Regions from separate parts of the Homo sapiens genome. Here region 1 is linked to region 2. The links come from fine-mapping of genetic effects on gene expression. A gene starts in region 2. The other region holds a variant in brackets. All regions are shown on one strand. Distances are from middle to middle. Region 1 overlaps CASC3 (CASC3 exon junction complex subunit). Region 2 holds the start of MSL1 (MSL complex subunit 1).

Region 1 (5,368 bases), 47 kb before region 2:
CCACCTACTCTGAGCTTTTCTGCACAATGGGACCCTCTGTGCAGACAGCCATGCTTCCACAGGGTTAGAGTTAAGGGAATACAAGTATACAAGAGGATAACAAATGCCAACTAAAAGTGAAAGGCCAGGTCTTTTTAGACTTGGTGGGGAAGGCTGGCTGATACATTCTCCATTATCTGGGATGCACGGAAGAGTCAAAAGGGAATCCAGAGGGGCTAGAAAACCAGAAGACTAGACTTGTTTCATTTAAAGGCAGGGAGAGAGAGCAAGAAACAGAAACAAAGAGAAAAAATTAAAATAATATTAAGGATAAGAAGCCAGGCTTTAAAAATGAACATCTTAGAAAACAAAACAAACAGGAAGGAGCTTCCTTGGGAACAGAAGACACTTCAATTTCCCAGAAGTGAAGAACAGCAGAAGACATGGGCTTCTGTATCTAGACTCAGAAGCTTGGGGCTGTCTGGCTCTCTCTGCTCCCCCGAACACAGCCAACTCAAGTGAAGAGTGAAGATGGGACGAGGTCCACTTGTTTCTCCCTCTCTCTAGAGCCTGTCCTCAGAGGAAGGCAGGGGTCCTCCTCTTTCAGCTGTTTGCTGGTAGGAGCCACACCCTATATCTTTGAAGCCCTTCTGGTAGTAGATAGCCAGCTGTATTTCTCTTCTGAGTTCTCACCTCTGCTGCTCTGACAGGGGTTGGAAAAAGGGAAGAACCACCAAAGTGTTAGTGGGCCTTCTGGGCATTCACAAGCTGTTTTCAAAAAGCCACACTTCTAAATAATGTGTTTTAAGTAATGTCCTTAAACAAAAGCAACAAAACCCCCAGTCCTTCTCCTCTATGATCTTTAGAACTGGTTTTTTCTGCTATAACATCTCAAATTTAGATTTCCCTTTTCCTTGACTGCCTTCCTGTATTTTTTCCTTGTAGCTTCCCAATTGAAAACTGTCATGTTAACAATCGTTTCTACTTCAACCCTGCCCAATACACTTGCCAAACAAACAAACTGGCAAATTTCAGGACTCCTTTAAGCCTCCTGAGATATCCCATGATTATTATAACTTAAAGCATTAATCAGAGGCTGGGTGGGGTGGCTCACACCTGTAATCCCAACACTTTGGGAGGCCAAGGCAGGTGGATCACCTGAGGTCAGGAGTTCAAGACCAGCCTGGCCAATATGGTGAAACCCCATTCCCACTAAAAATACAAAAATTAGCCAGGTGTGGTGGTGCGTGCCTGTAATCCTAGCTACTTAGGAGGCTGAGGCAAGAGAATCGCTTGAACTCAGGAGATGGAGGTTGCAGTGAGCCGAGATTGCACCACTGCACTCCAGCCTGGATAACAGACTGAGACGCCGTCTCAAAAAAAAAAAAAAAAAAAAAAAAAAAAAAAGCATTAATTAAGTGATTTTTGTTTATTAAGCAAGTGTGAGCATTAGTTTTAACAATATTCACAGTAAGTTGTGCACTTACTTTTATATGATGTTAAGATTTAAAATATTCAGAAACTTGTATTAACTGGAACCCCTGCTTACAACCTGAAATAACAAAGTTGGAATTTGTTATCAGGTCATAACAAAAAGACTGTTTTCCAGAGAAACACACCCAGAAAATGAGGGAAATCCTCTGGGGAGAAGGAAAGCCCACTGACGGAGCATGTGCATTAAGTATAGGAAGGAACTCTCATACCTCAGGTGGAGGGGGCTTGATGGTGACTGGCTGGGGAGTCCTCCGGGGTGGGGAGGGCTTTGGCTGCACCTGCTGCTGGGCGGGGTTATAGTAGGTCACTCCTCCATATACCTGTGATGGGGCCTGGGACCCCACAAGCCAGGAGAAGAAAAAGTTAGGAATGAATTCATCCAACCTATGATGAACAGGAAATATTATTCAGCCATAAGAGAATTGGGGAATTTATAATTTTAAAAATATCTAATCTGCCCACCCTTCAAAATAAAGTGACTATTCATTTTTGCCTTAATTCTTCATTATTATGCTCTGGTTTTTATTTCTTCAAAGTACTGCCCAGCTTTCTCTAATTCCTACCATCAGCTGACAAATGGAAAAGGCTGAGTTCAGTAGCGACACTACAGATACTTGATTATGTCAACGTGGTGGAAGTTAAGCAGGACAGAGGTAGGGGTGATAAGGAGTAGAATACAGCTTCTTTATGCAATAGAGTAAAAACCAGGTATTGCCACCTATGATGTACCACAACACAGGAAAGAAACACCATTAAAGAAACTGAACGCTGGGTGCGGTGGCTTATGCCTGTAATCCCAGCACTTTCGGAGGCCGAGGCAGGTGGATCGGTTGAGGTCAGGAGTTTGAGACCAGCTTGGCCAACATGGTGAAACGCCATCTCTACTAGAAATACAAAAACTAGCCGGGCATGGTGGCAGGCACTGTAATCCCAGCTACTCGGGAGGCTGAGGCAGAAGAATCGCTTGAACCCAAGAGGTGGAGGTTACAGTGAACCGAGATCACGCCACTGCACTCCAAGCCTGGGCAACGGAGAAAAAAACTGAAAAGAATAAAGATGATGGGCATTACATAAGCTGCATTTCCAGCTCCTGACCACTAAGAGGCGTCTTGGTGTCACA[T/C]ACAAATCAGTGGCACTGAAAATGTTCTCTCAAATTCCTTTAGCATTCTCCCCATACCACATTCCTGTCTGAATTAAAGAATGTGTATCTAGAAAAACATGATCATTAGCCATCTCACCTGTGTATTAGGATACAGATGAGGCGGTGGTGGGGGAGGCAGTGCCCCTGGAGCATAAGGGTAACTGGGATTACCAAAGTTCATGACGCCTGGAGCAGAAAAGTAAGTAGGAGCAAGCAACTGCTGAGGTGGTGGCTGTCCTGGAGACATGGACACTGGTGGGGGATAGAGGCCTGGATTGGGCAGAGGAGCTGGTGTCTGGTGGGGATGTAAACCTGGATAAGGAGAAGAAAAAAACTGAAAAATAAAGTAACATCATTTTCACAGGATGGCCCGGCTGGACTGCTCAGTATAATCAGGCTCAGAATGGAAGTCCTCAGGATGGACACAAGAGGAACTTGTTGCCCAAGCAGCCAGGATGGCCAGACTCCCAGGCTAGCAGCACAAAGCTCAGGAGGATGGGTTTTGTGGCACTCCCAACATATATCCTCAGGTACTGGAAGCATATAAGCAGAGACACAAAGCTTACCTGGGTGGGGAAGGTTCATTCCTGGCTGCACAAGCATGCCCTGTGGAGGCAGCGGGGCAGGGCTGTCACCATGGGTATAGATTGGTCCCTGGAACTGCACTGTAAGATATCACATTGGGACTCTCATAAACCCTTACTCTTCACATGGACAAGTCTCCTTGTTCCCCAAGCCCTTTAAAAGATGTTCTCAATATTCCATGCGAAGAAAACAGCAACCAGACAATGTTTGATAACCACTATAAGAGGTCAGAAGAGAAATTCAGGAGCCAGGAGCCTGGTATCTTACTTCACTTCACCCTGCCAAGAAAAGTACCCCAACAGTAAGAAAAAACTCACGTGGATCATAGTAATGTCCCTCCATGATACTGATATGCACTGGAGGGGCGGGGGGCTCTGGCACAGGTCTTTGCCGCTGGGATGAATAGCGTTTGGCTCGACCACCCTGGACACCCTGAGACAAAGAAAGAGGCCTAAACAATAAGAATTCTAGAGGGCTCTCATATCAAGTCCTACCTTCCTTTAGGTGTTGAAAAACACTTGGTACATGGCAGGTATTTAATGGATATTTGCAAAGTGAGCTGAAAAATAATGAAAAGATATCAAGATTTGAACCTAAACCTTCTACCTTACATTTAGGAGATCCAAATTAAAAGAAACATGCATAATCAATGGAAAAACTGACTTTATCTTGGCCGGGCGTGGTGGCTCATGCCTGTAATCCCAATACTTTGGGAGGCCAGGGTGGGTGGATCATGAGGTCAGGAGTCAGGACCAGCCTGGCCAACATGGTGAAACCCTGTCTTTACTAAAAATACAAAAATTAGCTGGGCATGATGGCACGTGCCTGTAATGCCAGCTACTCGGGAGGCTGAGGCAGAATTGCTTGAACTGGGACCCAGGAGGCAGAGCTTGCAGTGAGCCGTGATCCCGTCACTGCACTCTAGCCTGGGCAACAGAGCGAGACTCTGTCTCAAAAAAAAAGAAAGAAAGAAAAGAAAAAAAAAAAAGACCTTATCTTGGTTTAAACAATGAACAAGCTGTGTAACAGGCAGCTCCCTCCCCCATCTACCCCTTTCCCCTTCTGTACCATTTCTTCCATCCGGTTAAACTGAGGTGGAGGTCCTGCTCCCATGTGTATATGGTTGGGCATACCTGTAATACACCAAAAAAGTCACTTCTGCAGATCAGACATACGTGAGTGGGACTCAAAGATACTATCAAGAGACAGGTTTAAGTGTCAACATAAGGAATGCCTTTTTTCTTTTAACTAATAAAATTCTCTATAAACTATCTCTGCTTTCTGTCAACACCAGCATTTAGAAATTTGTCCCCACTGTCTGCCATCTTAATATAGCAATAAAGCCCTTGAAAATGAAAAATAAAATGACTTCAGTGAAGAAAATCAAATTCAAATTTTTTCCTATCAAATTGTTCCCTGCATAGAATCCCTGAGAGATTATAATTAGCACATTACATTATCCAACATATTGAAAAATCTCAGCCCAAGAGTTTCTGAGCAACAGCTGGACAAGGGAGGGATGCTTTGTAAATCTACTTGATTATATCCATTCACAGGGGTCTGGGTTGGAAGTTTGAAAGGAGATTCTCCTCTGGCTAAAATGACTCAAGACAAAAAGGAATGTTCTAGAGATTGTCCTCCAATAGTAAGAAGGGTGCTGCAACTCCAATTGAGGAGTTCCAATATTTAAGTTAGATTTCAGACTAAGGGAAGATCCTTTGATCTATCTGGCTGGAGAAAAACAAACCACAATAGGCAAAATGGGTAATAGGTAGGTCTTACTCTCTAAAACTATGCTGCCCAATATGATATCCACTAACCAAATGTGGACACTTAAGTTTCAATTAATTAAAAGTTCAATTCCGGCTGGATGCAGTGGCTCATGCTTATAAGCCCAGCACTCTGGGTGGCAGAGGTAAGACTGCTTGAGCCCAGGAGTTCAAGACCAGCCTGGAAAACACAGTGAGACCCCCCGTCTTTTCAAAAAATAAAAAAAATCAGCCAGGTGTAATGATGTGTGCTTATGATCTTAGCTACTGAGGAGGCTGAGATGGGAGGATTGCTTGAGCCCTGGAGGCGGAGGTTGCAGTGAGCCAAGGTCACGCTACTGCACTCCAGACTCTAGCCTGGGTGACAAAGTGGGACCCATCTAAAAAAAAAAAAAAACAA
Region 2 (5,297 bases):
TGTTTATTTTTAGGCAGCTGTAAGGTATGCTAGCACAGTAATACCCCCCACCCCAGCTTCCCTCATATCTGAAGGAATATGTTTTAACGCAGAGATGCCCTTAACTACTGCTGCAGTAAAAACAAGCCTGTGTCGTCCAAGCTCCTCAGAAGTAAAGAAATAATAAACGACTTTCCTACTCCCTAAGATTCTAAAATAAGGATGGGGAGGTCTATTTAATACATTTAATAAGCTTACTTTCCCCTGATGCCCTAAAATCTTCCAGTTTCAAACACCATGCTTATAAAAGGGACCTGGTCAGTGGGTCATGTATTAGAACTCAGGTTCCTATTAAAAGCTGTCTGAAATCAAAGGCAGTGATTCTCTTAATATCATTTAAGAAAACTAAAATAGGATTCCACGTAAATCACCTCTACCCCTGTGCCCACTAAAAGGCCTACTGCCCTCCTATCTAAAGATGCTGCAGCAGTGGTGAAAGCAACAGCTGCTTGCTACAGCCCTCTCCTCCACCGTGCATTTCTAACGCAATAGCTCTTTAATTTAACCCTTCCATAAGGACACAACACCTACACCCCACCCTTTCATTTTTAACCCCTCACAGATCACGTCTTTTTCCACTAAACGTCTTTCCCACACGTCTGGGGCTGTCATTTTAAATTAACCCTTTGGCACCTGAAACCCCTCCCCCTCCCCCTGAGAGGTTGCCCTTTAACCCTTCCCTCCAACCCAACGTGTCTGTGAGCCTGGCTCCCAGAGACCCAGCGCCTAAGATACTCCTTTGCCGGTGGCCAACCTCCTTTACCCCTAACCCGGGGGTGCCTTAACCTCCTACAGCCCCCTTCCCCCGAGCATGCGCACAACTCGCTCCTCGGCCCGAATGCAGATTAACCCCTCCCGTACCGTGTCTCTCTCTGACTTCAGCTCCTCGATCTCCTTTTCCTTGGCCTGCAGCTGCTGCTGCTGCTGTTCGATGAGGTCCAATTGCAGCAGAAGGATCTGTTTGAGGCAGGCGGCCTGACTGGAGGCTCCCGAGCCGCCACCACCCCCGAGAGGGCTCTTCCTCATACTCTTCCATCTGCCCTCGCTGGCCGCCAGGGTCCCGGCGGTGGCGGTGGGCGCGAGGGGTGGCGGCCCGGGCAGAGGTAGTGGTGGGGGTCCCGCCGGGTCCGAGGCGGTGGCAGCGGGGGAGGCCGCCCCACCCTTGTCCCCAGCCCAGGGCGTAGGCTCTTTGGCCGCCGCCACGAGAGAGCCCGTCTGAATGGGCAGCACCGCCTGATACTTGGGCCGGGGGCTGCAGCCGGCTCCGGCTGCGGCAGGCTCCCCCCCAATGCCGGCTTGCTTGGTGGCCGGGGGCGGACAGGGCAAGGGCACCGAACCGCCCCAGCTCTCTTCCTGCTGCCCGGGGGCCGCCCCGGCCGGGAGTAACAAGCCCCGGCCCTTGCCGCCGCAGCCGGCCGGGGAAGGCGCGGGGCTCCCGCCCTGGGAGGAGGCCAGCGGGGGCCCCGGCTCCTTGAGCTTACGGTGCCGGGGGAGGAAGTGGGCTTCGGCCGCCCCAGGCTCGTCCTCGGGCCCGCCCAGCGCCGCAGCCCGCTCGTAGTCCAGTCGCTGCTCAGGATTGCCGCCGGCAGGGGCCGCGGCCGCCTTGAACACCGCGGATCTCATGGTCATAGTGGTCCGGAGCAGCGCCGGGCACCGAGGCGGAGGAGGGGGTGGGGAAGGGGCGAGGTGCGGGGGGTCGAGGACTGAGGGGGGGGAGGGGAGTTTGGCGGGCTCGCCTCAGCAGCGCGGCAGCAGGCCTCCGCTAGCGCGGCTCCTCCGGGGCCCGGGCGCCATCCCGCCGGCGTGCGGAGACGTGGAGGCCGCGGCTGAGGCCCGCCGCCGGCCCATGGGGGCCTCGCCGCCGCCTCTGCTGCCGCCGCCGCCGCCTTCGCCTCAGAGGCAGGAGCTCGCACCCAGCCGCCCCCGAGCTCATCCCCGGAGCTCGCTTCGGCCCCCCCTGGCCCGGCCGGGCCCGCCTCGTCTCCCCACCCCGCACCCCCCCTTCCCCGCCCCGGCCCCCCGCCCCGGAGCTCGCCTCAACCGCCCCGAGCCTCCATTTCCCCCCCCTCCTCCTCAGGAGGGGGTGGAGGGCTGGGTCCGCCCAAAGCCCTCCTACTCCGGGAGAGGGGGTCTGTCGCCTCTCCCGGGGGTCTCCGCGGCTCGGGGTCCCCCTCCCCCACAGTCACCCCCGGCGCCTCAGCGTTTCCCTTTAAAAAAACGGAGCCGCTCGTAGCCGCCACCGCCGCAGCCGCCGCCAACCGGAGGACGCATGCGCGGGGAGGGGAGCGGGCGGGAGTGCACCGGGAGCCGAGAGGAGGGAGGCGGGCCGCGCTATTGTGAAAGGGGCCGCCGCCGCCTCGAGGGGGGCAGGGAGGGGACCGCGGGGGCCGGGGGCCGGCGAGGGGAGGCCGGGGCTGAGGGGCGAGGACCGAGGAGCGCGCGGAGGAGCGGGGTGAAGGTGGGCTGCCGAGGGAGGGGCGAGCCGGGGGAGGGTCTGGAGGGGGAAGAAGGGCGAGGGCGGCCGCGGGAAGAAGGGGAAAGCGGAGGCTCCCCGGGAAAAAAGCGCGAGAGAATGGAGTTGAGAGGAAAGAAGGAGGATACAGGCGGCCAATGTGTGGCCTACGTGGGAGCGCCCCGAGCGCTCCACGTCCCCGGCCTGCGCCGGGCGGCCCCTTCCCCGGGCATCTTGGCAACGCGCCTGGCCCAAGCCGGAGGGGCCCCGCGGCCCCGCACGCCTCCTGGACCAGTCAGGATCCAGGCTCCTCTTTGAGCCCGCGGGTGTTTCATGGGGGTAGAAGTCTAACCCCTCCACCCCCTCTCCTCCCCAGCAGTCCCACGCGGGTATGGGAGAGAATGAAGTTCTTTGTCTCTAAGGGATTCAAACCAGAAACGGAGGGACCTCTGGTTCCCAGAGGGAGGAAAATCCATGATGTCTGCTGCCCAGGGAGCTATTGCCACCGCCTCCTTGGGATGAAGTATTGCCAGCTACCAACAGTTCCTTCCCAACGGCCATCTTCCAGCCTTCTTAAACGACTCCTAGCATCTTCGGGAGGCTCCTGAAGGACTGAAGCAAAGGAAATCTCTGAAGGGATTTAGTCCTTGAAAGGGAGTAGGGATACTTAGGGTGTTCTGTGTTGAGCGCTTCTTCCTATCTCTCCAGCTTCATGTATGTGTGTCTTTATGTCCAAGCAATTGAGCCAACAAGTCCTCAGAATTCCTTGTGAAAAAAACGTTTTTTTTTTTTGAGACGGATTCTCACTCTGTCGCCCAGGCTGGAGTGCAATGGTGAAATTCAGCTCACTGCAACCTCCGCCTCCGGGGTTCAAGCGATTCTCCTGCCTCAGCCTCCCGAGTAGCTGGGATTACAGTCACGCGCCACCACGCCCAGCTAATTTTGTATTTTTAGTAGAGACAGGATTTCTCCTTGGTCAGGCTGGTCTGGAACTCCCGACTTCAGGTGATCCGCCCGCCTCGGCCTCCCAAAGTGGTGGGATTACAGGTGTGAGCCACCGTGCCCAGCCCTGAAATAGTCTTAATTGCTTGTTTTTCTTTTTTGTCTGAGGTGTGCTTTTTAAAATCTCTATGGAGATGGAGAAGACTGACATTCTCTGGCCTGATGTGAAAACCTCTCATTAAAACTGTGTCTGTGCTTTGTGGGCTGAAAGCATGAAACACTGGAAATTTTAAACAAACGTATGTGAATGTGTTAAGAAGCCAAGAGTCCGGCCCTCTTTCACCAGACTGTATGGCCTCAGATCAGCAAGGGAAGTATTGAGCTTAGGGACACCAAGTAATGGAGTGAGCAGGGATGAGAGGGCACATAGAATGTGGTGATCTCTTTCCATGTCAAGGCTTGTGTGTTTGTGGCACTGGGGTCTTGCTGTGTCCCCAAGGCTAGAGTACAGTGGCACAATTATGGTTCACTGCAGCCTCAACCTCCAGGGCTCAAGTGATCCTCCCACCTCAGTCTCCTAAGTAGCTGGGACAACAGGCTTGGGCTGCCACACCTGGCTAACTTTTTATTTTTTTGTAGAGACGGGCCTTTGTAATACCAGCCTTTGTTGCCCAGGCTGGTATTGAACTCGCTCAAGCGATCCTCCCACCTGGGCGTCCCAAAGTGCTGGGATTATAGGAGTGAGCCACTGTGCCCAGCCTTCAGCGTCAAGACTTTCTGCACCATCTCTACGCTGACAGCTCCGTAATTTATATTTCTTTCTGGACTCATCCCCTAACTCCAGAATCATATATCCAACTGTCTAGTATACATACCCAGTTGGATGTCTAATAGGTATTTCTTTTTTTTGAGGTGGAGTCTTGCTCTGTTGCCCAGGCTGGAGTGCTGGAGTGCAGTGGCACGATCTCGGCTCACTGCGAGCTCCTCCCGGGTTCACGCCATTCTGCCTCAGCCTCCCCAGTAGCTGGGACTACAGGCGCCTGCCACTACGCCTGGCTAATTTTTTGTATTTTTTAGTAGAGACGTGGTTTCACTGTGTTAGTCAGGATGGTCTCATCTCCTGACCTCGTGATCTGCCCGCCTCGGCCTCCCAGAGTGCTGGGATTACAGGTGTGAACCACCGCGCCCGGCCTAGGTATTTCAAACTTACATCTAAAAATCAAGCTCCCGAATTCCTCCCACCCAAACACCCAAATACCACTTCTACAGTCTTACTCTTTTTTTTTTTTTTTTTTGAGACGGAGTCTTGCTCTGTTGCCCAGGCTGGAGTGCAGTGGCACAATCTCAGCCCACTGCAACCTCTCCACCTCCCGGGTTCAAGCGATTCTCCTGCCTCAGCCTCCAGAGTAGCTGGGATTACAGGCATGCACCACCATGCCCAGCTAATTTTTGTATTTTTAGTAGAGACGGGGTTTCACCATGTTGGTCAGGCTGGTCTCAAACTCCTGACCTCATGATCCGCTCACCTCAGCCACCCAAAGCTGGGATTACAGGCGTAAGCCACCGCGCCCAGCCCAGTCTTCCTCTCTTTGTCACCCCATTGCCTTTCAAAATGTATGTCCAAGGCTGGACGTCGTGGCTCGTGCCTGTTACCCCAGCACTCTGGGAGGCCGAGGTGGGCGGATCACAAGGTCAGGAGATCGAGACCATCCTGGCTAACATGGCGAAACCCCGTCTCTACTAAAAATACAAAAAATTAGCCAAGCATGGTGGCGGGCGCTTGTAGTCCCAGCTACTCGGGAGGCTGAGGCAGGAGAATGGCGTGAACCCAGGAGGCAGAGCTTGCAGTGAGCCGAGATCGCGC

The links.
Region 1: its variant is fine-mapped to the expression of MSL1 in whole blood (INTERVAL, PIP above 0.99).

What each region holds. Positions count from the first base shown.
Region 1 is chr17:40,165,761-40,171,128 of GRCh38, reverse strand. CASC3 (CASC3 exon junction complex subunit) reads right to left here. Exons shown (of 14, transcript NM_007359.5): 8 at 4,268-4,332; 9 at 3,517-3,631; 10 at 3,181-3,279; 11 at 2,712-2,926; 12 at 1,683-1,805; 13 at 1,467-1,531; 14 at 1-682. The coding sequence ends at 1,508. Among named protein-coding and RNA genes, the nearest start is that of MIR6866, 6.5 kb to the right of the region's middle. RefSeq lists an enhancer at 2,506-3,065. The variant T/C (reference allele first, on the strand shown) is at 2,594.
Region 2 is chr17:40,118,984-40,124,280 of GRCh38, reverse strand. It overlaps MSL1 (MSL complex subunit 1), which reads right to left and starts at 2,310. Exons shown (of 9, transcript NM_001365919.1): 1 at 901-2,310. The coding sequence starts at 1,668. LOC124904001 (a long non-coding RNA gene) reads left to right here and starts at 2,441. Exons shown (of 2, transcript XR_007065752.1): 1 at 2,441-2,497; 2 at 2,868-3,752. RefSeq lists an enhancer at 831-1,469 and silencers at 1,170-1,619, 1,670-1,719, 1,820-1,959, 2,020-2,229, 2,270-2,469 and 1 more.